6 separate regions of the Homo sapiens genome follow, and all the other regions are reported to be linked to region 6. Evidence: microRNA targets listed by miRTarBase, many of them from high-throughput screens and not tested one by one. Region 6 holds a microRNA gene; each other region holds the end of a gene's coding sequence.
What was found. Region 6 holds the annotated microRNA hsa-miR-99a-5p (AACCCGUAGAUCCGAUCUUGUG, at 1,194-1,215, shown strand). A microRNA usually pairs through its seed, bases 2 to 8, with sites in the 3' UTR of a target mRNA and lowers its output. Matches are read on the target gene's strand: a 7mer-m8 pairs with bases 2 to 8, a 7mer-A1 pairs with bases 2 to 7 and ends in A, and an 8mer does both.

Region 1 (4,106 bases), not on the chromosome of region 6:
CTATCACCAGGCACTAGGCTCACTGCAACCTCCACCTCCCCAGTTCATGCCATTCTCCTGCCTTAGTCTCCCGGGTACCTGGGACTACAGGCGCCCACCACCACGACCGGCTAATTTTTTGTATTTTTAGTAGAGACGGGGTTTCACTGTGTTAGCCAGGATGGTCTTGATCTTCTGCCCTCATGATCTGCCTGCCTCAGCCTCCCAAAGTGCTGGGATTACAGGCGTGAGCCACCGCGCCTGGCCCCAGTTAATTATTTATAGTCTTTTCTGCCCAGCTGAGACTCTGCTATGGGTAGCCTCTTTGAGACAAGGAGAAGTGATCAATGCTTTAATTAATTTCCAAATATTTAATTTGCTTTTATTTTATTTTATTTTTTTTTTGAGACAGAGTCTCGCTGTGTTGCCCACGCTGGAGTGCAGTGGCGCGATCTCGGCTCACTGCAAGCTCTGCTTCCCAGGTTCACGCCATCCTCCTGCCTCAGCCTCCCGAGTAGCTGGGACTACAGGCGCCCGCCTGGCTAATTTTTTGTATTTTCAGTAGAGATGGGGTTGCTTTTATGTTTTTAGGATACCGGGTTATGATTCAAACCTTGTTCTTTGGGGCTGTTGATAGATTTATTCTTACTGGCTTGTCATGCCTCATTATAGAGTGTATCAGGTAAAGAAGTAATATTAAAATCAGGAAAACAGCAAAATCTAATCATTTTCTTAATTCTTAAATTGTCTTTGTTTTTTGGTTTTAGGTTATGGATGATGAATCAGATGAAAAAGAAGCAAACTCACCTTAAAATAATCTGGATTTTCTTTGGGCATAACAGTCAGACTTGTTGATAATATATATCAAGTTTTTATTATTAATATGCTGAGGAACTTGAAGATTAATAAAATATGCTCTTCAGAGAATGATATATAAATATTGCATGTTTGCTTTACCTCATATGAGTTATTTATAACCTCTTGAATCATCTTCTGTACACGTGGATTTTATCCAAGGATATTTTTATTTTTGTCCCTCATTTCCCATGGCTCTTTCTTTGCATATGTGTGAAGGAGTTTAAAATACATTTCCCCCCATCTAATTTATTTACTTTTTTCCATACAGGAAGAAACAGAATGCTTTTTAGAATATTCTAAAATAGCTTTTTGTGAAATATCTAAAACTATTTTTACTGAAGTTTTTAGCTTAAGAAACAGCTAAACAAGTCTGTTTTAAAAATGGTATCTGGCTACTAGCCCCCAATTAAGTAGCAAAGAACTGCTTAAGACCAAAAAAAAGAAATCAAAAATGTCCGGGTATGGTGGCTAACGCCTATAATCCCAGCACTTTGGGAGGCCGAGGTGGGCAGATCACGAGGTCAGGAGTTTGAGACCAGCCTGAACAACATGGTGAAACCCCGTCTCCACTAAAAATACAAAAATTAGCCGGGCGCGGAGGCACGCGCCTGTAATCCCAGCTACTTAGGAGGCTGAGGCAGGAGAACTGCTTGAACCCGGGAGGCGGAGGTGGCAGTGAGCTGAGATCACGCCACTGCACTCCAGCCTGGGGGACGGAGCGAGACTCCATCTCAAAAAAAAAAAAAAAAAAAAAAAAAAAAAAGGTGAAAAACTTGAAAACTAACTCCCAGAATCTGGACACAGTTTCTATTGGTTAAGATGGAGATGGCCAAATTAGAAAAACTGCCTCAGCATGCCCAGCCTTTACCTTATCAATCAGAATTGCTGAAGAAAAGAGAAGAAGCTGCTTTGGTCCTCCCACTGGCTTCTGACTCAGAGATCCAAAATCTGTACCATGCCAGAAGTGTGCATCATTATTTTTGTACTCTAGGGGTACTGCTTTTTCAGGTAGCCAAAAGAGTGATTTAGCCTCCTCTCTCATTTTTCTACAGTAATTCAGAGACTGCAGTTAACAGAAAATACAGGGAAAGGAAAGATGGGAAAAATAGTTGTGATGCATTGCATCTCTGGAATTCTAGTCCCTCAAATTAAGGAGATTAAGATAGTGATGGAAACAGGAAGAACTCTAGCAGTTGTGAGTGCTGGGAATTGAAGTTTTTACTTTTATCCTTTGGTTCACTGAACCAAATAGTAGGGTTGGAGAATTCATTCCTTGAGATATCATGTATGAATTTAATTTAGACACTGGGAATTGCTTCATAAGCAAGGCAACTTAACCTGCCCTTTAGTTGAAGCTACAGGAAATTGACATCGTGGATGAGATGCCAGTAATGGCAGATCTTGTATGTGGCCATGAAATAAGTGGCTGAATTGGATGGAGGATTAGTTTATTAGAAGAGAGGAAATTGGCCTGGCGCAGTGGCTCATGCCTGTAATCCCAACACTTTGGGAGGCTGAGGTGGGTGGATCACTTGAGGTAAGGAATTCGAGACCAGCCTGGCCAATGGTGAAACCTTGTCTCTACTAAAAATACAACAATTAGCCAGGCAAGGTGGCATGTGCCTGTAATCCCAGCTACTCAGGAGGATGAGGCACGAAAATCCCTTGAACCTGGGAGGCGGAGGTTGCAGTGAGCTGGGATCGTGCCATTGCACTCCAACCTGGGTGACAGAGCGAGAGTCTGTCTCAAACAAACAAACAAAAAAACAGGAAATTATTCAATTGAGAGGCCAAAGAGGAAGAGAGGAAAGATTTTCTACAAAAGCAACAGCCATGAAGAACAAGGAGGAAAGGTGTGGGAAGAACATTCTAGGCATAAGAACAGTATAATCAGAATTGTAAGTGTGAAATGTATTTGGGAACCTCAAGAAACTAAGTATGGCTTGAGTATAAAGTGAAAATGGTGCATGAGTAGGCAGTGGTAGTATAGAGAGTGCCACAGAAACTCTTGGTTGCCTACCCAACATACACCCTCACTTCTTGTTAAGGAAGGCACTCTCAGTAGGTCTCACCTCAGTCCCAGGGGATAGTTATGATTAAACCAGTCACTTTAACTCCATTTTTCTTTTCCAGTCATTAGTCTGTGGGTAGCCATATGACCTAGCTCTGGCCAGTAAACTGGAAGAGAAAGTCTATTGGAGAATTCTGGAAAGATTGTCTTTCCTAGTTAAGAGAGTGTGTATGTGAGTTAATCTCTGGAAAGAAGGCTCTTTTTTTTTTCCTCCATCCATTCCTTTTCTTCCTGCTTGGTACACTGTAGAGTGTGATGTTCAAAGCAATGACAGTCAACTTGTAATCATGACTAAAAGGTGGTCCACTGAGAATAGCAAAGAGCAAAGAAAGGGTCTGGATCCTTGGCCTTGCACGGTGGCTCACACCTGTAATCCCACCACTTTGGGACACCCAGGCGGGTAGATCACTTGAGGCCAAGGGTTTGAGACCAGTGTGGCCACCATGGTGAAACCCCATCTCTACTTAAAAACACAAAAATTAGCCTGGTGCAGTGGCACATGCCACCTAGTAGTCCCAGCTACTAGGGAGTCTGAGGCTTGAGAATCACTTGAGCCTGGAAGGTGGAGGTTGCAGTGAGCCGAGATCACATCACTGCACTCCACCATGGGCGACAGCAAGACTCTGTCTCAGGAAAAAAAAAAAAAGGGTCTGGATCCTTGAGGCATTGTTGGCCTTTTGGCCAGACTAAGAATTACTCACTTTCAGAGTTTATATGATGTGAGATAAATGTTTTTCTTGTTTTAGCTATTGTTATCAGGTATTCTGTAACTTGAAGCTGATTGCATTCTGAGAGACTGGTAAATGATGGAGGACTTGGTAAATACTTTTACCGATTTTTCATTTGTGGTAAACTGCCAAATGTCAACCTTAAAATGAAAACAGGCCGGCCGCGGTGGCTCACACCTGTAATTCCAGCACTTTGGGAGGCTGAGGCGGGTGGATCACCTGAGGTCAGGAGTTCGAGACCAGTCTGGCCAACATGGTAAAACCCTGTCTCTACTAAAAAAATACAAAAATTAGCTGGGCATGGTGGTGGGCGCCTGTAATCCCAGATACTCGGGAGGCAGAGGCAGGAGAACCGCTGGAACCCAGGAGGCAGAGGTGGCAGTGAGCCGAGATCACGCAACTGCACTCCAGCCTCGGTGACAGAGCAAGACGCCATGTCAAACAACAAAAACAACAACAACAAATTAACA
Region 2 (4,106 bases), not on the chromosome of region 6:
AAGAACAGGGAAGGGCAAGAAAGGAAGAACAGGGAAGGGCAAGGAAGGAAAAGTGCATGAAGGAAGAAGTTGAGCCAAGATTTAGGCCCAAAGATCGGCACTGCTGACTACCCAGGGAGGGAGCTTATTCTACAGCTCTCCTGAGAGGTACCAAGTTGGGCGAGATGGCCGTGCCTTTATACCCCCACACCAATCCCATCCGCTGGCTGTGGGCTGCCCCAGAAAGGGCATGACCTTGGGCGAGGGGGCCCTGCAGCAGCTGGGGAAGTCCTTCCCCGGAGGACCCTCTGAGTGGCCCATGTTCCCATCCCCCACCCCCCAGCTATCCGTCCACTCAGGCCCCGCCCACAGCCCCCCACCCTCCGTCTCAGTTCCCCTCCCCTCGTCCTTAGCACGTGTTGCTGGCTCATTGCAGGTTGACCAGATGTTCGCCGCCTTCCCCCCTGACGTGACTGGCAACTTGGACTACAAGAACCTGGTGCACATCATCACCCACGGAGAAGAGAAGGACTAGGAGGGGGCTCGCTGCTGCGCCCTGGGCTCGTCTTTGCAGAGTGGTCCCTGCCCTCATCTCTCTCCCCCGAGTACCGCCTCTGTCCCTACCTTGTCTGTTAGCCATGTGGCTGCCCCATTTATCCACCTCCATCTTCTTTGCAGCCTGGGTGGCTATGGGTACTTCGTGGCCGCACATCCTACAGTTGGAAATCCATCCAGAGGCCATGTTCCAATAAACAGGAGGTCGTGTATTTGGTCACGACATTTCTCTGACAAACAGTGCCTTGTGTAAGGAAGGCAAAGGCAGATGAGCTAGTGACAGCCTTGCAGTCATTATTATTGAATCTTGGTGACTCTTTATTTAAGGTAGACCTTTGCAGCCACTCAGAACTGTTTCTATCAAGGATCACGTTTTCCTGGAATGTTACCTGGATGACCAAAGCCCTCTCTTCCAAAGAGCTCAAGCATTTAGAGGGCCTTGCTTCCATGACATCTGTCCCTTGGGATGCCATCGGAATGCCTCTCCTGCCAGTGACAGTGACAAGAAGGAAGCGGACTGACACATGGTAGGAACATAGCTCGTTCAACAGTAATCACACCTGCTAATCCTAAGAGGGTGACTTCTAGTTTCAGATAAAGTAGAAGTTGTCTGTACTTCTTCCCTAGCAAACTGAGGGAGTGGTACTGACTTCTGTCTCTGTCTGGGGCCCAGGCCTGGATGTGAGTTGACCTTTGATTTTGAATGACCACAGTCACGGTTGAAGCATTCAGGTCTGTTATGGCTGCAAGAGTCCCAGTGTAAGAAACAAATAGGGCCAGGTGTGGTGGCTCACGCCTGTGATGCTAGCGCTTTGAGAGGCTGAGGCAGGAGGATCACTTGAGCCCAAAAGTTTGAGACCAGCCTAGGCAACATAGTGAGATCCAATCTCTATAAAAAATAAATAGCCAGGCATGGTGGTGTGCACCTGTGGTCTCAGCTACCCAGGAGGCTGCAGTGGGAAGATCGCTTGAGCCCAGGAGGTCGAGGCTGCAGTGAACTGCACTCCAGCCTGGGTGGCAGAGTAAGACTCTGTCTCTTAGAAAAGGAAAAAAAAAAAAAACAGAAATAGGTTCAAATAACTAAGAAGTCCAAGGGCTTCAAGCACAATTGCACCTAGGAGCCCAGGCAGTGCCCTCAGAGGCTGGGGAGGCCTCTGTTTTCTGTCACGTTGCTCTGCTCTCAGCAGTGGCAAAATAATTAAGAGCAGCTCCTGCCCCTTTTCCAGCCCCTCAGCAATCCTAGAAGAGCGTACTCCTCTCTCTTCCAGCTCCACACAAACATCAGAACAGGGCCTTGTGGGATCCCTCTGGGGCACTTGACACCCCTGAGCCAATCACCATGGACTGGCAAGGGCAGTGCTCTGATGGACAGGCCTGGCTCAAATGATCAGCCCTGTGCTGGGGTTGAAATCAGAGTCCTCCTGAACCATATGGCCTGGAGATGGGAGGGAAGATTCCCCAGAGGAAAACCCAAGAAGAAGCAGGGAGTGGACTTCGGGTACTTCAAGTTTTCAAGAGAATCCCAAGAACCCTCCCAGCACTTTGGGAGGTCGAGTCAGGCAGATGGCTTGAGGTCAGGAGTTCGAGACCAGCCTGGCCAAAATGGCAAAACCCCGTCTCTACTAAGAATACAAAAATTAACCAGGCATGGTGGCACATGCCTGTAATCCCAGCTACTCAGTAGGCTGAGGCAAGAGAATCACTTGAACCCGGGAGGTGGAGGTTGCAGTGAGCTGAGATCACACCACTCACTGAGCTGAGATCACTCCAGCCTGGGCGACAGAGCCAAACTCCGTCTCGGAAAAAAAAAAAAAAAGAGAGAGAGAGAGAGAGACTCCTAAGAACCCAAGAACCCAGGACACAGCCCAAGTCAGTGATGTGATGGGAAGAAGCTGAAATGTGGTGACGGAGTGGAGCTGGGGTCACAGTGAAGGCAGGAGGACCCAGGAGGCCAGAGGAGCCACAGTTAGGGCCAGTCCTCAAGGCTTGACAATGACAACAGTGGGAGGAGCTCAGGGCTGAGCCATTAACAAGACGAATGAAACTGTCCCCTGGCTGCAGAGACCTGGGGCCCCTTTCAAAGCAGGCTGCGTGGGCAGGGACCCAGGGGAGTCATGGCCCCATCCCCATGACCCAGGACACCCCACACCCTGTGGTGACCCTCGCCCCTCACGGCTTCCCTGCACTCCAGAGTTGGTCCAGGCCGAGAGCCTCATACCCGGGCTCCTGTGGTCAGAGATGCAGTCCGGCACCAAGAAGGCGGGACTCAGGACACTCCAGGGCAGTGCGTGGTTCTGGGCAAGACACCCTGGACTCAGCTCCACAGTGACATGCTCACCCACGACAGACACACGCAGAGACAGAGACATGCAGAGACACACAGAGAGATACAGAGATGCACACAGATACACAGTGAGCTGAGATCACACCACTCACTGAGCTGAGATCACTCCAGCCTGGGCAACAGAGCCAAACTCCGGCTCAAAAAAAAAAAAAAAGAGAATCCCAAGAACAGGTACAGACTTGCAGAGACATACAGAACACACAGAGACAGAGACACAGGGACATACAGAGATGCACACAGAGATACAGAGACACACACAGATACAGACACGCAGAGACACACAGACAGGGACACACAGAGACATACAGAGACACACACAGAGACACAGAGATGCACACAGATACAGACATGCAGAGACACACAGAGAGAGAGACACAGAAACATACAGAGACACACACAGAGACACACAGATAGGGACACACAGAGACACACACAGAGAGAGCCACAGAAACATACAGAGACACATAGACAGGGACACACAGAGACATACACAGGTGCAGACATGCAGAGACACACAGAGACAGAGACACAGAGACATACGGAGATGCACGCAGATACAGACATGCAGAGACACACACGGACACAGAGATATACAGAGACACACACCGGTGCAGACACGCAGAGACACACAGAAACAGAGACACAGAGACATATGGAGATGCACACAGATACTGAGACACACACGGGTACACACATACATGGACACACAGACACAGAGACACACTCAGATACACAAAGAGATATACACAGACATATATACAGACACATAGATACAAACACACAGAGACACAGACACTCAGAAACACAGATATACACACATGTACACAGACACACCCAGAGTAGCAGATCCAGCACGCCCCCAGCTCCCACTTCCCATTTGTGAGTGTTTGCCACACCTCGGGTGGCCAGGGGCGTCTCAGGATCCACACTTTGGCTCCAGCATGGCCCCTCCCCCGGGCTAGTCCCTGTTACATCTGGTGGACCGCATCTGCATCCATGTCTCTGCATATCTGGGGGTGGCCTGTGCTGGTCTCCAGCTCAGAGGTTTCCAGGGGCCTTGATGGACTCACATGGTTCCCACTCCCTGTTCCCGCTTTTACTTCTCGCTCCTCGGCCCCAGCCCAGAGGTGGCCCCAGTACCCAAAGCCCTTAGTAATGTGTGTGACAGGCACGAGGCTACAGAACAAAACATTTATTCTTTCGGTTATGTTGCAAAGGTGGCCCCATG
Region 3 (4,106 bases), not on the chromosome of region 6:
ATGTTTCATCTTTATCACGTTACAACGTTCGTAAAAGCTTGTTAGGACTTTTGTTCTTCTTCAGTTTTAGAAAAGTGGTTAATCCAAGGACCAATGTGACTTTGATGTACTGACCTGGAAAGTTAAAGATGGAATCACTCAATTACTATTCTTTTTGTAAATTTCTAAACACCATAAAGCATTTAATGAACTGGAATTGATAGGTGAACTGTGTCATTTTAATAAGCATAATGTAATCACGTCATATTTTGTTTTGTTTGCAGGCAGAAATTTAGATAAGGATATCCTTAAACAGCTGTTTATAGCTACTGTGACAGAAACAGAAAAGCAGTGGACAACACGTTTCCAAGAAGATCAAGTTTGTACATAACACTAGAGGCATTTCTTATCAAAAGGATTGGATAATAAAAATAAGTTTCTACTGGGTATATTTCAAGCATTTATTTATTACTTTAGTTACGAATTCCAATATACTTTAAAATGGTATTTGTTTTACAGCATACATAAAATGTAGCAAATCAGTACTGTAAAACATTTAACATTCATACAGTTATATATAATATCCTTTTTTTTAAAGAATGGTATTTCACAAAAATATCTTTTGAAATTGGCTTTGGAGTTTACATATACTGAACATGAAAGTTTATAATAATGATGATACAACTTTCAACATTGTCATTTTTTCTTAGAACTTCAGCTGATTGCAGAGATATAATGATTACATTGTTATTAAATTTTTTTAACACAAGTAAGTGTCACCATTTTATGACATGAAATAAAAGGTTATGACTGTTATTGATGTTGATGTTGACGACCTGATCACCTGGCTGAAGGAGTGTTTGTCAGGTTTCTCCATTGTAAAGTTACTCTTTTCCCCCATTTCATACTGTGCTCTTTGGAAGGAAATCACTATGCACAGCCCACACTAAAGGAATGGGGAGTTGTAGTGTACTTTCTTGGGAGTGGTCTACATGATTAATTGAAATTCTTCTGCAAAGGACAGTTGTCCCTTTCGCTTTATTAGTTCGATCATTTATGTTTATCAGTGTGGACACATGAATATTTTATACTTTGGGTTACAATTTAATACTGCTTTATTTTGTTGCTCAAATTATCCCAGCTTTGACCATTGGGAACTCTTTCCGTTATCTCCTGTTCCCACCTTTGACATACCCCCATCAATGTGGGTTTTGTGTTTTGTTTTTGAGTGCCTCCTTACTTTTCTCCTGTATTTTTAAATAACCCCAATCCCTATTGAAGCTGGCGCTAGGAAAACTAACAATACTCCCTTTCCCAGGTCATCCGATTCCTATGCTGATGGAGGAAATTTGCCTCACATGCTGGGGGCGCTGGGATTTTGTGGTTGAATAAGACACCTGGCCTGGCCCTCCTGGAGCTTAGTTTAGTAGGTCACACAAGCAGTCATTGGTAAATTTGGGATTCAAACAAATCTGTTAGGCTCAAACCTGTCTGTTATTTGTCCTCCAAGCTTCATATAAACTGAGGAGCCTTAAAGGGTAAAAACTTCAGGAGCAGCAAAGTTTCAAAAAAAGATCAGCAAGAAAGCCCTTTTCCAGATTTTATCCTGAAGGCACTAGCTACTTTAAGCTATTTTTTATTATATTTTGCCCTTGCAGTTGGCGTTTGATTTCTCACTGAACATTCATTGTCATAATTATAGACACTATGTGACTATCAAGGGCATAATATTCTTTCATGCTGCATTTTTATTAGATGGCACCTCAAAGTTTTCCCAAGTAGGTGGGTTTTAAATTATGAATATATACCGTGGCATAGTATCTTACTTAGTATTTTAATAAGATCCTTATTTATATAACAAATATTTTTTTTATTCCTCTGTAGTGCTACTTTAGTCTCTGAGCTAATTTTCATGAAGCCAATCTAAAAATCGTGTTACTTCTAAGGATGTGGAGCGAGTGAGATGAACAGTTGTGCTGTCATATTGCCCCTCCCCAGTGCAGACAGTGAATGAGGACCCACTGATTTAAAGGCAACACTGCAGCCCCTTCTTGCCTCATTGAAGTCCCAAGTTTTATTACAGTAAAAGCACTTAATGTTGACATTTCTGAAAGAATGAAGAGGCCGGGCGTGGTGGCTCACGCCGGTAATCCCAGCACTTTGGGAGGCTGAGGCGGGCGGATCATGAGGTCAGGACATCGAGACCATCCTGGCTAACACGGTGAAACCCCGTCTCTACTAAAAATACAAAAAATTAGCCGGGTGCGGTGGCGGGCGCCTGTGGTCCCAGCTACTTGGGAGGCTGAGGCAGGAGAATGGCGTGAACCCGGGAGGCGGAGCTTGCAGGGAGCCGAGATCCCGCCACTGCACTCCAGCCTGGGCGACAGAGCGAGACTCCGCCTCAAAAAAAAAAAAAAAAAAAGGAAAAAAAGAATGAAGAGCCAGAGCCAGGCATAGTGGCACGCCTGTAGTCCCACCTACTCAGGAGGCTGAGGCGGGAGGATCACTTGAGCCCAGGAATTCAAAGCCAGCCTGCGCAACATAGACCCTGTCTCTAAAAATGAATTGGTTATAAAGGATGAAGAAAGGAAGGAGGAAAGGGAGAGAGAGAAGCCCTTATAGAGTGGGTGCATTTCTTGTATGTGGGGCCACTTTGTAAGAACAGGATTTTTCAAACTGGGCCCATACTGGTATGTGTGAAATCAATTTAGTTGGTTATGGCCATTTTTTTTTAAAAGGAAATATCAGTGATCACTATAGTGTAAGTATATTGTTTCGTGAAAGCCATCTTAGTTATGTATTATGTCTGTATGTGTAAGATTGTGATATAAAATGTATTTCTGTGGTTAAATATTCAAAGAAATTGGAGAACCATTGCTACAAGGGGACAGAGGACTCCGTGTGAGCTCTCCTGCCTTCCCTGAATAAACTTACACAATTTAGTGCTGGGACATTTGAACCTTTTCTGAAAATTTGAGTCAGGGAGAGCATCTTGGGGAGGTGGGAAGGAAGGTAGAAGGAGCAAAGCAACACCCCCCTGAAGCCTGGGAATATTGTCAGAACCTTAAATATAATTCAGCTCACCATTCTGGGTAAGGACAGACTCTACCAATGAAAATGGGTGATTACCAGCTGTGAAACACAAAAACATACTTTCACGGTTACACATTCCTTTACAAACAACCGTGTACATTTCAGCCTCCTACCCCACCATTTCTTTTCTCCAGGCGGGAAGGCTGCATGTCGAGGTGGTCGTAGAATGTTGAGTATCCTACTTTCCTACCTCGCTTTTATTTGCGCGGGTTTAAATGCGCCTTAACAGAACCCGTGCAAAGGCTTGCCTACTGTCTGGCTGCACCGGATGAGTAGAGCATCTTCCTTGGTGGCAGGTGGGTGCGAGGAGGAGGGCGCTGGGCTTTTCTCCGGACGGTGTTTGCCCAGAAGACCATCATCCCTGGACTACGTTAGGAGGAAGTGGCACCGCTCCGAGGTAGGGGAAGAAGGGTTATAAAGGGAGGCGTCCACCACACATGGTCTTGAAGAAGCTTTTATAAAAGGCGAAGGCATCTTTGCCGGACGTTGTTGCAAAGGCGTAGAAACAAGCAGAGGAAAACATCCCAAAGGGTAACCACTAGCGTTCCTGCTTCTTGCAACATTCATCCCGGGCTTCCAGCTCAGCCCGCCGGGGCCAGGTGATCCGGCCGCCACATCCCCTGCGACTGAAGCACCTGCTCCGCCATGAACTTGCCAAGAGCTGAGCGCCTTCGCTCCACACCGCAGCGCAGCCTCCGGGACTCCGATGGGGAAGACGGTAAAATCGATGTCCTGGGAGAGGAGGAAGATGAAGACGAGGAGGAGGCGGCGAGCCAGCAGTTCCTAGAGCAGTCGCTCCAGCCGGGGCTGCAGGTGGCCCGGTGGGGCGGGGTTGCGCTTCCCCGAGAGCACATCGAGGGCGGCGGCGGCCCGAGCGACCCCTCAGAGTTTGGCACCGAGTTCAGGGCACCGCCAAGGTCTGCGGCGGCCTCTGAAGATGCCCGGCAGCCGGCAAAGCCCCCCTCCTCGTACATCGCGCTCATCACCATGGCCATCCTGCAAAGCCCGCACAAGCGCCTCACGCTCAGCGGCAT
Region 4 (4,000 bases), not on the chromosome of region 6:
TCAGGTGCTAGCGAGTGACGCTGTCCACAGGTGGCGCGTTCTGCCTGGCACTTGTGTGATCTGGGCCTTCTTCCTCCTTCTTCTGTCCCAGGCAGGAGATGGACAGCCTGCAGCGCCAGATGGAGGAGCACGCCCTGACGGTGCACGAGTCTCTGTCCTCGTGGACGCCGCTGGAGCCAGCCACTGCCAGCCCTGTGCCCCCGGGGGGTCACGCCGGCCCACGCGGCGACCCACAGAGACACAGTCAGAGCAGGGCTTCCAAAGAAGGGCCGGGAGAGTGACTGCTGTGGACTCGCCTCCGTGCGCCGCTGCCCCAGAAGGCTCTTATCAATGTTATTTATTTGATTGTGTGGTCGATGTTTTTCTAAGACATGAAATTTAAGTTTTGTTTTGCCTTTAACAAGAAGTAAAATATATAGCAGAATGAGAGCCAAGGACTAGAAAAACATTCGAAGATCACAATTAGCTTTTCACATGGAATGACCAACTCTTAAAAGCCTGATAGGCTCTCGGCGAGGAGCTTTGAACGTGTCTGAAGGGTTACTTGTAGGTCGTGGCTTCTGAGCGGCCACCGATGCTGCTCTCTGCGGGTGACAGGGAGAGGCTGCGTAACTGGGAGCAGCTGTGTGACAGGGTCTGCGGCACCGCGCCTGGCCAGGCCGGCTGCAGTTTCTCACTTCCCTGTTCCATTCAGTAAGAGCTTTACTTTTCCGCAGAAATGAAATTTTATCTGTACCTTTGGCTTTTTACTTGTTTTTTTGGATAGCCATCCCACCATAGGATGTGTACATAGATACTGAATATCATAATCCAATCTTTGTTTTTTTTTTTTTTTTTTTTTTGAGACAGAGTCTCGCTTTGTTGCCCAGGCTGGAGTGCAGTGGCACACTCTCCGCTCACTGCAAGCTCCGCCTCCCAGGTTCATGCGATTCTCCTGCCTCAGCCTCTCGAGTAGCTGGGATTACAGGCGTGCGCCACTATGCCAGGCTAATGTTTGTATTTTTAGTAGCAATGGGGTTTCACCATGTTGGCCAGGATGGTCTCGATCTCCTGACCTCAAGTGATCTGCCCATCTCAGCCTCCCAAAGTGCTGGGATTACAGGCGTGAGCCCCTGCGCCCGGCCTGTCACCCAGTCTTTAAGAAGCATATGCTCATGTTATTGAAGAAGAACCTACTTATTATTGATTGCCTTTTGAAAATTTGTTGGGAATAATTTACCTGCAGGATTTAGGGATAGTCAGAAAATTCTAAGAAATATAATTATTTTATTTACCTTCTAAAGCCAAATATTCTTACACAGAAAGGTCCTCTGTTGTTCTGGTTTTACTTTGTTGCTGAGGATCTTTCCTTCCTGCTGGTCTCTTCCTCTCAGGCCACTGGCCCTGTGTGATTCCACCGTGGCTGGCCACTGGGAAGGGGCAGCTTGGACCCTTGGTCAGGCCTGACGGCCATCAGGAGGCACAAGGACACTGAGGCCCCATATCTGATCTGACCTTTGGGGGGGCACAGGGAGAGGCCGGTGGAGGAGGAGGAGGAGAGCAGACCAGGGGCTCCCTGCAGCGACTCCCGCGGTTTCCCCTGGAGTCAGCCAGGTGTAGGTCGCAGGCGGTAACAAACCTCACACTCCTGTTCCCCAAGTGAAAATCTTTACCATTGTCTGTGGGAGCGCCTGTACTCGTGTGTAGGAGCACCTGTACTTCTGCAGTCATCGAGAAGTCCTGGATCTTTTGTGGTTACACCAGCATCATGTGGCAAGCAGAGGCGACTTCCGGAAGAGACAGGCAGGCACCGTGAGGAAGGTGGCTGTGCTCTCCCAGGTGTCTCAGAGACAGATGCCTTATTTAAAATCAGCACGACATGTGTGAGATCTTCTGTTTCCTACCCCAAATCCTGAAACCCTGCAGACACTGGCTGACTGGGAGAGGTGGGGTCTGTAAGTTGTCCCCTAGTTTGCTAAGAAAATCTAAAATAATATTTATTATATGAGTTAGGAGAGAGAGAATGGGTCCGCGTGGCCTCCTCTGCAGATGTACTGGTCTGAAATGAGGTTCTGAGTCACTGGCCAGGCCAGATGTGCTCATGTCGGTGTCTGGTGTCTGTTTTGTGGAGAAAACAGTATGGTGTGTTTTAAGCTATTTGTGTTCTGTTGTAATATACTTTTAGAAGGTTAATTGGTAAGGTTAAGGTAGCATTAACCACAAAGATGTTTGGTATTTAAAAAATATTCTCTAGCAAATATTGGAATTTCCAAAATATATCATTTGTACAGGGTTAATTTTGAAATAATACTTGAAAATTTCATTATAAATATATCCTACTTTTTATCTTAAGTTGAAGATGTTATTTACTAAATTGTTCTTGTACCATTAGAAAAAAAAATACGGCAATTTACGTTCTTATTTATTTTGGCTGTACTACCCCTTTGTTTTAATTTTAAAATCAAGAAATCGGGCCGGGCGCGGTGGCTCATGCCTGTAATCCCAGCACTTTGGGAGGCCGAGGCGGGTGGATCACCTGAGGTCAAGAGGTCCAGACCATCCTGGCCAACATGGCAAAACCCCGTCTTTACTAAACATACAAAAATTAGCCGGGTGTCGTAGTGCGCACCTATAATCCCAGCTACTTGGGAGGCTGAGGCAGGAGAATCACTTGAACCCAGGAGGCGGAGCTTGCAGTGAGCCGAGATCGCGCCACTGCCCTCCAGCCTGGGCAACAGAGCGAGACTCCGTCTCAAAAATAAATAAATGATTTTAAAAAATCTAAAATCGAGAAATCACACATTCAGTGGGGAGCGACTTCTCCTTGCTTATGGGAAGTCCTCAAGTGAGTGATGTTCACCATGTATTTTTTTTTCTCTTAGGACAGACTAATTCTGAAAATACCGAAGGAAAAGTAGCTCTATGTTCTCACCCCGGTTTTCCTGCGTGTGTGCCCTTGGGTGCGATGCCTCCCCCAGCGCTCTGTGGTCGCCGGTGCCAGGGCCCCCTCTGGTTTGGCAGGGCCTGGCTGCCTTTGCTCCCTGCAGTGAGTCTTTTGGTGTTTTCATGCACGGCTTGTGCTTCTGGATCTGAGGCCTCTCGTGTTCACGCGGACACTTCCTTCCTTAAGAAGACGCCTAAAAGAGGAAGTTGGAATTTTTTTTTTTTTTTTTTGAGACAGAGTCTCGCTCTGTCGCCCAGGCTGGAGTGCAGTGGCGTGATCTCTGCTCACTGCAAGCTCCGCCATCTGGGTTCAAGCGATTCTCCTGCCTCATTCTCCCCAGTAGCTGGGATTACAGGTGCCCGCCACCACACCAGCCTAATTTTTGTATTTTTAGAGGGGTGGAGTTCCACCATGTTGGCCAGGCTGGTCTTGAACTCTTGACCTCAGGTGATCCTGAGCCTCAGCCTCCCAAAGTGCTGGAATTATAGGCGTGAACCACCGCCCCCGGCTGCAGTTGGATTTTTAAATTGCTTTTTTTTATTGTTGAGGTTTTTTTATCTCCAAGGGACTCTCCCGGCACTTCTACCTTCCAGAGTTACTTCAGTGCATAAAGTTTGAATTATTTTGTTCTTGTGGGCAGAAGTGGGAATGATGGAATATCCTCACGGAAAAGGCAGTGAAGTTGGGAGTACTGCTTACAAAACAGGGTCACCAGTGCATTATGTGGCGTGTTCATCCCCACGCCGTGTGTCACGGGCTAGGGCGGCGTGTTCATCCCCACACCGTGTGTCACAACAGGCTAGGGCACTTCACGATGTCACTACTTGTTTTTCTGATGTTCCAAAAACAACGTAACTTGGTTTTCATGTGTTTTTCCGTGGTATATGTGAGATTGATGCTACGGGTCTTACGGACTCACACCCGTTCCCACTCTCTGCAATATGGATCAGGCAGTGTTTCTGATAGGATGTGAAATGGACTCTCCTCGGGTGGGTCCAGCAGGGGCCCTGCCCACCAGAACACAGTCCGTGCTGTGCTGCGCTAAGGAGCTGGCCCTCAACTCTCCTTGGTGCAGGG
Region 5 (4,096 bases), not on the chromosome of region 6:
AGAGATGAATGGCAAGAACTGGGCCAAGCTGTGCAAGGACTGCAAGGTGGCTGACGGAAAGTCCGTGACAGGGACCGATGTGGACATCGTCTTCTCCAAAGTCAAGTGAGCCCTAAGCAGCCCCTGCTTCTCATGTTCCCAGGAGGTGGGGAACTGGGGGGCTGGAACCAGGGAGGACATCAAGAAGGGGTCAGGGAAACACCATGATCACGAAGGTCGTTCTTCCAGGGCAAACCTTATATCTATTGCCCTCCAGAGTTGCTGACCCCTGCGACTTCCCCAAACGTGGGAAAGAAACGCAATTGCATAATTTGTGGTGGCAGCAAATGTGTTTGAGCTTTCCCCTGGGGGAGAAAAAAGAAAGGGGAACCCTCATGGTGCCCACATGCCTGTCAGGGGGAAGTCTGCTCGGGTCATCAACTATGAGGAGTTCAAGAAGGCCCTGGAAGAGCTGGCGACCAAGAGATTCAAGGGGAAGAGCAAGGAGGAGGCCTTCGATGCCATCTGCCAGCTGGTGGCAGGCAAAGAGCCAGCCAATGTGGGCGTCACTGTAAGTGCCCTGCTGGTCTCGGGTGGCCACGGAATGGGGTGTGGGGAATCGTGGCTGTGGGTGGGAAGGGCTGGGCTCCCTCATCAGGTGCCCCTGGGGAAACTCTGTCCAAACAGAAAGCAAAAACAGGGGGTGCTGTAGACCGGCTGACGGACACCAGCAGATACACGGGCTCCCACAAGGAGCGCTTCGATGAGAGCGGCAAGGGCAAGGGCATTGCGGGACGGCAGGACATCCTGGACGACAGTGGCTACGTGAGCGCCTACAAGAATGCAGGCACCTACGATGCCAAGGTGAAGAAGTGAGGCTTGGGAAGACCGCCCTGCCAAGTGCGGCTGCCCCTGCCAGAGGCTCAGGCCTGGGTCTAAGGGGCACGTGGAGCAAGAGATCCTGGTCCCCTCCCTGCTGGACCTGCCACCCAGAGCTTCCTGCCTAGTCCCACTGGGCTGGCCCACCAGGCCTCTGACCCAGGCTGCTCTGCGGCCCCTTCCTCCTCCTCTTCCTGCTCCAACTTCTGTCCACCTGGGGACAGTCTGTGCCTGTAGCCTCATGACCCCAACCCAGCCCCAGGCATGGCTAACCCCTGACTGCTTGCCTCATATTTAAGCTGCTGCTCTGGCCAAGTGCCTAATTTTAACCCAGACCTCAATAAAGACACCTTTTGTACCAATATGGCCTGGTTGACGATGATGGGGGAATGACATTCACACTCCAGTGACCCCCTCAGTGTCATCACCCCGCTGCATGCCACACACTGCTAATCACTCCCCTTCCCCTGGCAGCCTTGCCCAGAAAAAGGCACTCATGAGTCCCCTTCTGTTAGCACAGAGCCATTCTGTCTGAGGAGACTCCTGGGGAAGTCCAAAGCCTTTTAGCTGGGCCTGACGGGAGTCCTGACATCAAAGCTTGCCTTCCTGTGACCAGTGCCTTGGGTTTGGAGAGTTGGCCCCCTCTCCACTTTCACAGCAGTAGGAGGGATGAAACAGCCGACTCAGCCTGGGCCAAGCATTGGCAGAGGCCCCAGAGCCAGGCATCAGCTTTCAGTCTGCGAACAGGGGCTACCGAGGCAAGTCATTTTGGGTTCTGGCTCAGAATACAGAAAACGCAGGGCCAGGCAGAACCTTAGAGAGTAGCTCATCCAGGCCGGGCGCGGTGGCTCACGCCTGTAATCCCAGCACTTTGGGAGGCTGAGGCGGGTGGATCATGAGGTCAGGAGTTCAAGACCAGCCTGACCAACATAGTGATACCCCGTCTCGATTAAAAATACAAAAATTGGCTGGGCATGGTGTTGCGTGCCTGTAGTCCCTCCCAGCTACTCAGGAGACTGAGGCAGGAGAATCGCTTGAATCCAGGAGTTGGAGGTTGCTGTGAGCCGAGATCACGCCACTGCACTCCAGTGTGGGCAACAGACACTTTGTCTCAAAAAAAAAAAAAAAAAAAAAAAAAAAAAAAGAGAGTAGCTCATCTGACTCCGTAATTTTATAGCTGAGGAAACATCCAGAGAGGTGGAGGGGCTTCTGCAGACTAGAGGCCAGACCATGCCTCTTGCCTCCCAGGCCAGGCTCTTTCTAGCAAGCCCCAGCATTGACTTCCAAAACTGGGACTGGCTGACTGGTGATAGGGCTTGGCACCCAACACTAGCCTGTGGTGGGAGCAGGGCATCCCTCAGTAAAGGGGCCTCCTCTTTGATGTCCTCCCATCTGTTCCACATCCCTAGTGGGGGAAGGGAGCCTCTCTGGTCCTGAGGATGCCTGGGCGTTTCCAGATCATCTCACTGAGGCTCTGGGTGTTTTGACAGAGCTATTCCCAAGCCAAGGCTTTCGGGCTACCTCTCCTTCCTTCCTTGCTGTGAAAATGGGGCTGGATGGGACTTTAGGGCCTACCCAGGAGAGGGTGGCTCCCAAAGGGGCTAGAAAAGGTATAAAAGGGCCAGTTCCCAAATGCCTGCTTTCCTGACCCAGATCACAAGACAAAGCAGCACCATTGTTTATCCTCTCATCCCACAGTCTATTGGGGGATGCTCCTGCCCAGGTGGCCCCACATCCCTTAAGCCCAGCTTTCCTTGGGGACAGGGGTGTAGCGGAATAGTATGGCTTGAGACAGGGATGTCAGGCGGGAATCGGCAGGCAGCAGGTGGGCACCTGGCCACAGCAGAGCCTTGCCTCACAGCGCGGCTCCTCCTGACCCAGCTGACCGCGTCTCCTTGAGTGGCCCAGGGAAGAGCTTCAGGGACCTTCAGGCAGATCCTCCCACCAGCAAATGTTAAGAGGTAGAATGCAAGGCGTTTAATGAAAAAAAAAAAATGCAGAGGAACAATTCCTCTAGCCCTGGAAAATTCGTTTGAATTGCAAGCTTAAAATGAACATAATAGGAGTGAAACCCAAATCCTCTGGCTTTCACCAGAACAGCCTCACAGGGAAACAAATTTAACTGTGTTCCAAATTGGGCCAGGCTCCCACTATTCCACTGCAGGTGACAGTACCATCCAATGGTAGAGGGCCCAGCGGCTTCTCCATTCCTGTGACTGGCAGTATGGCTTGGAAGAACACAGAGAGAATGGCTGAGCCCCAAAACCCCACGTCATAGGAGTAAAGCCGCCTCTTCTCGAAATGCCGTTATGAAGCCCGAGGGAATTTAAGGCCCACTCAGGGCTGGGAGGACCCTAAGACCAGACGGGTCTAGCAGAATCTGGCACATGACAGCCATTGCCCAGCAATGCCACTGCCCCTCCCCTAACAGCCTCCTTGTGGTTGAAAGCTTTGGATACCCTTGCTAGCAAAATCAGGTTAGACAAAGGAGAGGTTAGGATCAGAGGGACAGAGCCTTTAAAACCTGCTCTGTATGGCTGGGAGAACTCCCAACCTAAGAGTGGCTCTGCCCCTCCCTCTGGACATAGAACCTCCCTGAGGACCAGTCTCCATCCCAGACCTGTCCTGCTTTCTGGTGGTAGTGCCAGGCCTAGGGTGTGGGATTCTGCTCCACGTGTTTTCTGCTTGTTTAAAGGGTCCTCCGCTTTCCATGTTGAGTCCAGTTTGCCCTGAGCTCTTTGGCTCTCTCCTTAACATCGCAACCCCTACCCGTGCCCTGTAGAACAAGTGCCATACAGGGAAAAATCAGAAACAGATGACTTCCCCAGGAGTGGCCAGCAAACCTAGCAGGTGCCTGGCCTGGGGCAGGGTCGGTCACTTTCAATGACAATGGCAAATGGGGTGGAGGGTGGCACACACTGGGCCAGGCTCTTTGTTCCCCTTAGGAGGTGTCCTGAGTGGATTCTGGGGCTAGCACCATCAGGTGTTCATGGAGGAGGCAGGAAGGGCTGGGTTGGAGGAAAGCAGTGCATTATTCCTCCCTGCCCCCTGGTGTGTCCATTAGGTTGGCCTGTGCACTGGGCTGAGACCCTGAAATATAACAACTCAGGGATGCAAGGCCACTGGCTGATGCTCCCCTACCTGGGAGACAAAGACAGGCCCAGGAAAGAGGCAGCGGGGGTGCAGGGAGGCTGCTCTTACTGACATTTCCACAGAGCACAAGCTCGCTCTAGCTCCC
Region 6 (4,106 bases):
AAATATATGTTGAAATATTTTTACTACAACTGAATGTATGATTGTTGATTATTTACTATAGTTTTTAATAATTATGAGGACAATTTAAGAATAAATAATGGTTTAAAATTATGTAGAACACATGATCTATATAAAGGCTATAAAACGTATTTATTTCAAAATATGCAAAATCACTAAGCAATTAGTATGTAGTATTATTTTACACAATAAAGATATAATTAGGAAATGCTAAGTGATTATAGATGTGAAATGATTAATGATTGTACAACTTATCATTTTGTTGCAGTTGAGTTTACAATCTTAAAAAAACGTGTATGTGGCTGGCTTTATGTTTACTCGTTTGTGTGTTTGCTTGTTGTCTGGTGGTTTAAAACATTTTTTAGTAATATTTTATTTTTGCCCAACCTGTTGACCAGATGAGAGTTGTATGTAGCCATGCATTTTAAGTGTATCTTTTTTGAACAATAAGTTTAAATATATTTTATTTAGGAAAGAAGATATCCTATGTCATGTAATACATCTGGAGTATAAATGTTAGTGTGGAGTATTAGTAATCATGCCATTATCGTGCCATTTAGTTTAGTTTTATATTAACTCATCCAAATATTGTAAATTTTAGCACCATTCCGACTATAGACACAGATGTATATATTTAAGGCTGATAATAACTTCCTGTATTCTCTAGCTAGTGAACAAGATCTTACTGTTTTATGAGAAAGTTATAATGTTACCAATTCCTTGAAACCAGTAACTAAACTAGTTTTATAAAAATTAAAATAAGCACGGTCTAACTCATACACAATTAACTTAATAGTTAATTTGGTTTTAATTATAGGCTCGTAATACTACATTCATGCCTCACAATTATATAATTCATACATGCATGTATGGATTCTTTTTTCTTTTAAAACTCAATTAGAATAGTTTAATTCCAAAATATTTACTATTGAAACAAAAGCAGTTCGTGAAAAATTTTTCAATAAACTACTTTTTAAATTCTCATGCATATAAATTTGTATTTAGTTTTGAATATTTATGAAGGCCTTTAATGGAGAATATGCATCCTTAGAACTCAGCATTTAAAACATTTATACTAAAGGATCAATATTATTTTTGACTCTTAATTGCATCAGATATTTACAACAAATTCTATATTAATAGGGGGCCCATGCAAGATGTTGCCCATTGGCATAAACCCGTAGATCCGATCTTGTGGTGAAGTGGACCGCACAAGCTCGCTTCTATGGGTCTGTGTCAGTGTGGTAATCTGACAAAATGCTATACACAGTGCCGTTCAACAATAGTTCAGTAAAATCCTGTTAAACTCCAGTTGATTATATACTTTTGAAGTCATTATATTTTCCTTTGTTTTTAATGTTTATTTTAATCATTGTCTGTCTTACAAGGCAGGCTTCAATTCTCAACAACTTGGAAGCGTTTATATCACACCCATTCAAGTTCGATTCCATGTACAGTAAATTGCATAAGAAAGTTGAACCTTTATAGCAGGGTTTGGACCAGGATCTGAATAGATTCTGTTCAGAAACTTCAGTGCATACTGTAGTGCTTAGTGTACCTCTTCAACTTCAGTAAGAAAATTAAAGACTACCATTGGATTTATATGTTTTTATTGAGCCTATTTCTCCTGAAAAAATGAGGCTGAATGCAATTGACTTTTACTATTAATTGCGACTAGAACTATGGCAGGTTAGATGGTCAGAAGACATTTTACGTGACCTATGCTGGAAACCCAAGTGTTTAGGTTAGTCCTATGAGAAACAGTTAGCAGCAAAGTTTACTGGTAAAATGTTAGAATATTATATCTATATCCTTGCCAAGCCCTTAGGTGTATGGCTGCCATATTTGGAGGAGCTGACTGAAGATATGATAAGGAGTTTGAAGCAACATTGGAAGCTGTGTGCATCCGGGTTGAGGTAGTAGGTTGTATGGTTTAGAGTTACACCCTGGGAGTTAACTGTACAACCTTCTAGCTTTCCTTGGAGCACACTTGAGCCGTCGAGGAATTCTTCATCACTTTAACCTGATTGAGCCAATTTGTGTGCAAGAAGGTAATGTGTCATGAGTATCTTGGATCATTGATTTGGGCCTTTATTACATTAAAATGATCATTTCAGCCCTATTAGATTATTCCATTTGTATCTGCTTATGAACAATGTCAAAATGGTATTTCTAATGGGTTGTCACTCCATGTTCAAACATTTTAAGAAAATTGTAGGTAGTGACTTAAATTGCATTAATATTAAAGCTTTTTATCATCTATAGATTAACAAAATTCAGACCTTAATTTTCAAATGGATCATTGGTCTATTTATATTGGCTGCTTAGACACTATAATAAAAAATGTCTGCTAGAGTTAATAGCTCCCATAGCACATTATTTGCGTTTTCCTTATGACACATCACTTTCTACCTTATGTTATGGCTATTTATGTGCTTGCTGATTTTTTCCGCACTAGACTGTAAGCCCCTTGAGGGCAAAGTCCATGTTTTATTTTTCACTGTATCCCCTCCAATGCCTTACTCATAATGAGCACTAACTATTTATTGGATTAGTGAATGGAGTGTAAGACCTCACTCTGTGATGAGTTTCTATTGAATATTTGAATGAGTTATGGCAGTGGTCAAACATCTGAGTTTTATTTATTGCTCCTAAAACTGTTTAAATTTAATTCCTGGACTGCTCCGCATCAGTAATACATGTGTCGATTTTTGACTGTGTTGAATGTGTTCATTCATTCTAAACAGATAAGTTAAAATTTAGAAGTACTTTTTATCTAGAATAAAAATAATAGAGTAAATTCATTTTTACTAATTAGTTCATGACAGTTTATGATCCTACACTTAGATAATTCATATTTCTGTTGAATTTAAATACCTTTCTTTCCAGATGAATCGTTTTTCTTTTAGCATCAATTTCAACTAAATATTCTATTTTAAGTCTCATTTAACAATATGATTTTTAAAAATTAGATTTGTGTCTTTTGTGTATTTCCCTCGTCTCCTGCCCTTTATTTTTGTACAGCTATATCTGTTGAATAAACCAGAAGCAACTAAACCAGAAACATGTCAATAAATTAATAATAAATATGTATATAAAGTATAATTTGAGAATGTGAACACATTTTTGTTTAAAGGAAAGGCACTTTATAATATTCTTTGTGTTACAAAGCAAATGGGACTCTTTGGAACCTTAGTTTGCTGTCAACTTTAGCAGCTGTTAGTGGTGTAATTTGTGTAGTGAGGCTATCTTACATAGATCATCTTTCAGACACAGGATTAAGTAGTTGTTGATGTTAGAACTTTAATTTAAGACTCCAAATATGAAACATGGAATTCATTAAAGAGACGTTTAGATGCAAATATATATTAAGGACCTCAAGATACTGGCTATGTGGTGCTGACCTTTCTAGAATGCTCAGGCATCCAAAATATCTTAATACCTAGAACTTGCTAACAATGTAGTGAAGAAGGAATGGCTACCCCCAACACGTAGAACATGTGAGCCTTAGAAAGTGAATACCAGTCACTTCAAGCAAAATAATTTGATTGGTCTACAGTAGTAAAGACTCTTTCTCTCTGTGAAAGAAAAATATTTGCAAGGACTAATCAAGAAGCAATGAATAAGAGGCAGTAGACATAGACCTAAAACAAACAAACAAAAAGACATGAAGAGATGAAAAGGAAAGTGACTCATAGCAAATAGGAACACCATTGTGTCTAATGATGGCAGTTCAACCCACGGATGAAAGAAAGGGACAACTAAATGGGTAAACAATTGTATCTTTATAAATAGTTTTTTCCTTGAGAGCCTAGGATCCCTTTCCTATGTGTTTCTATGTATGTATCTCCCAATACTAGGTGTATTTATTTAGAAGCCAAATCTATTGATGGGCCAAATAGAATATGATTGCCAATAAATGTCTATTTCCTTACAGTGTAATGGAGTTAAGTGCCTCACAGAGGTCAAGTAAGATGTGCAGTTTAAGGATAATCTTACAAAAGTACTATAATGAATTGTTAGAATTACAGCCTCTTTTATATACTATCACCTAAAGTGAATGAGTATAATAGAAGAATAATTGAAGA

Region 1: miRTarBase lists NFU1 as a target of hsa-miR-99a-5p. The part of its 3' UTR that is shown has no 7-base or 8-base seed match.
Region 2: the mRNA of MYL2 is a reported target of hsa-miR-99a-5p. The part of its 3' UTR that is shown has no 7-base or 8-base seed match.
Region 3: miRTarBase lists ZNG1A as a target of hsa-miR-99a-5p. The part of its 3' UTR that is shown has no 7-base or 8-base seed match.
Region 4: the mRNA of GOLGA3 is a reported target of hsa-miR-99a-5p. Seed matches in the 3' UTR shown: 7mer-m8 at 3,823-3,829.
Region 5: the mRNA of TPPP3 is a reported target of hsa-miR-99a-5p. The part of its 3' UTR that is shown has no 7-base or 8-base seed match.

What each region holds. Positions count from the first base shown.
Region 1 is chr2:69,392,931-69,397,036 of GRCh38, reverse strand. It overlaps NFU1 (NFU1 iron-sulfur cluster scaffold), which reads left to right. Exons shown (of 8, transcript NM_001002755.4): 8 at 747-911. The coding sequence ends at 791. Among named protein-coding and RNA genes, the nearest start is that of GFPT1, 7.8 kb to the right of the region's middle.
Region 2 is chr12:110,907,485-110,911,590 of GRCh38, reverse strand. It overlaps MYL2 (myosin light chain 2), which reads left to right. Exons shown (of 7, transcript NM_000432.4): 7 at 416-746. The coding sequence ends at 514. It overlaps CCDC63 (coiled-coil domain containing 63), which reads right to left. Exons shown (of 12, transcript NM_152591.3): 12 at 4,056-4,106. Among named protein-coding and RNA genes, the nearest start is that of MYL2, 11 kb to the left of the region's middle.
Region 3 is chr9:117,731-121,836 of GRCh38, reverse strand. ZNG1A (Zn regulated GTPase metalloprotein activator 1A) reads left to right here. Exons shown (of 15, transcript NM_018491.5): 15 at 264-1,000. The coding sequence ends at 370. FOXD4 (forkhead box D4) reads left to right here and starts at 3,420. Exons shown (of 1, transcript NM_207305.5): 1 at 3,420-4,106. The coding sequence starts at 3,718. RefSeq lists an enhancer at 3,825-4,106.
Region 4 is chr12:132,769,386-132,773,385 of GRCh38, reverse strand. GOLGA3 (golgin A3) reads left to right here. Exons shown (of 24, transcript NM_001389683.1): 24 at 92-4,000. The coding sequence ends at 281. Among named protein-coding and RNA genes, the nearest start is that of ANKLE2, 9.6 kb to the right of the region's middle. RefSeq lists enhancers at 1,385-1,584, 3,676-3,845 and a cis regulatory region at 3,760.
Region 5 is chr16:67,386,933-67,391,028 of GRCh38, reverse strand. TPPP3 (tubulin polymerization promoting protein family member 3) reads left to right here. Exons shown (of 4, transcript NM_015964.4): 2 at 1-105; 3 at 397-550; 4 at 667-1,220. The coding sequence ends at 855. It also overlaps the pseudogene RNU1-123P. Among named protein-coding and RNA genes, the nearest start is that of TPPP3, 4.5 kb to the left of the region's middle.
Region 6 is chr21:16,537,908-16,542,013 of GRCh38, forward strand. MIR99A (microRNA 99a) reads left to right here and starts at 1,182; the gene lies at 1,182-1,262. All of the region lies in intron 6 of MIR99AHG (mir-99a-let-7c cluster host gene), which reads left to right. It overlaps MIRLET7C (microRNA let-7c), which reads left to right and starts at 1,921; the gene lies at 1,921-2,004.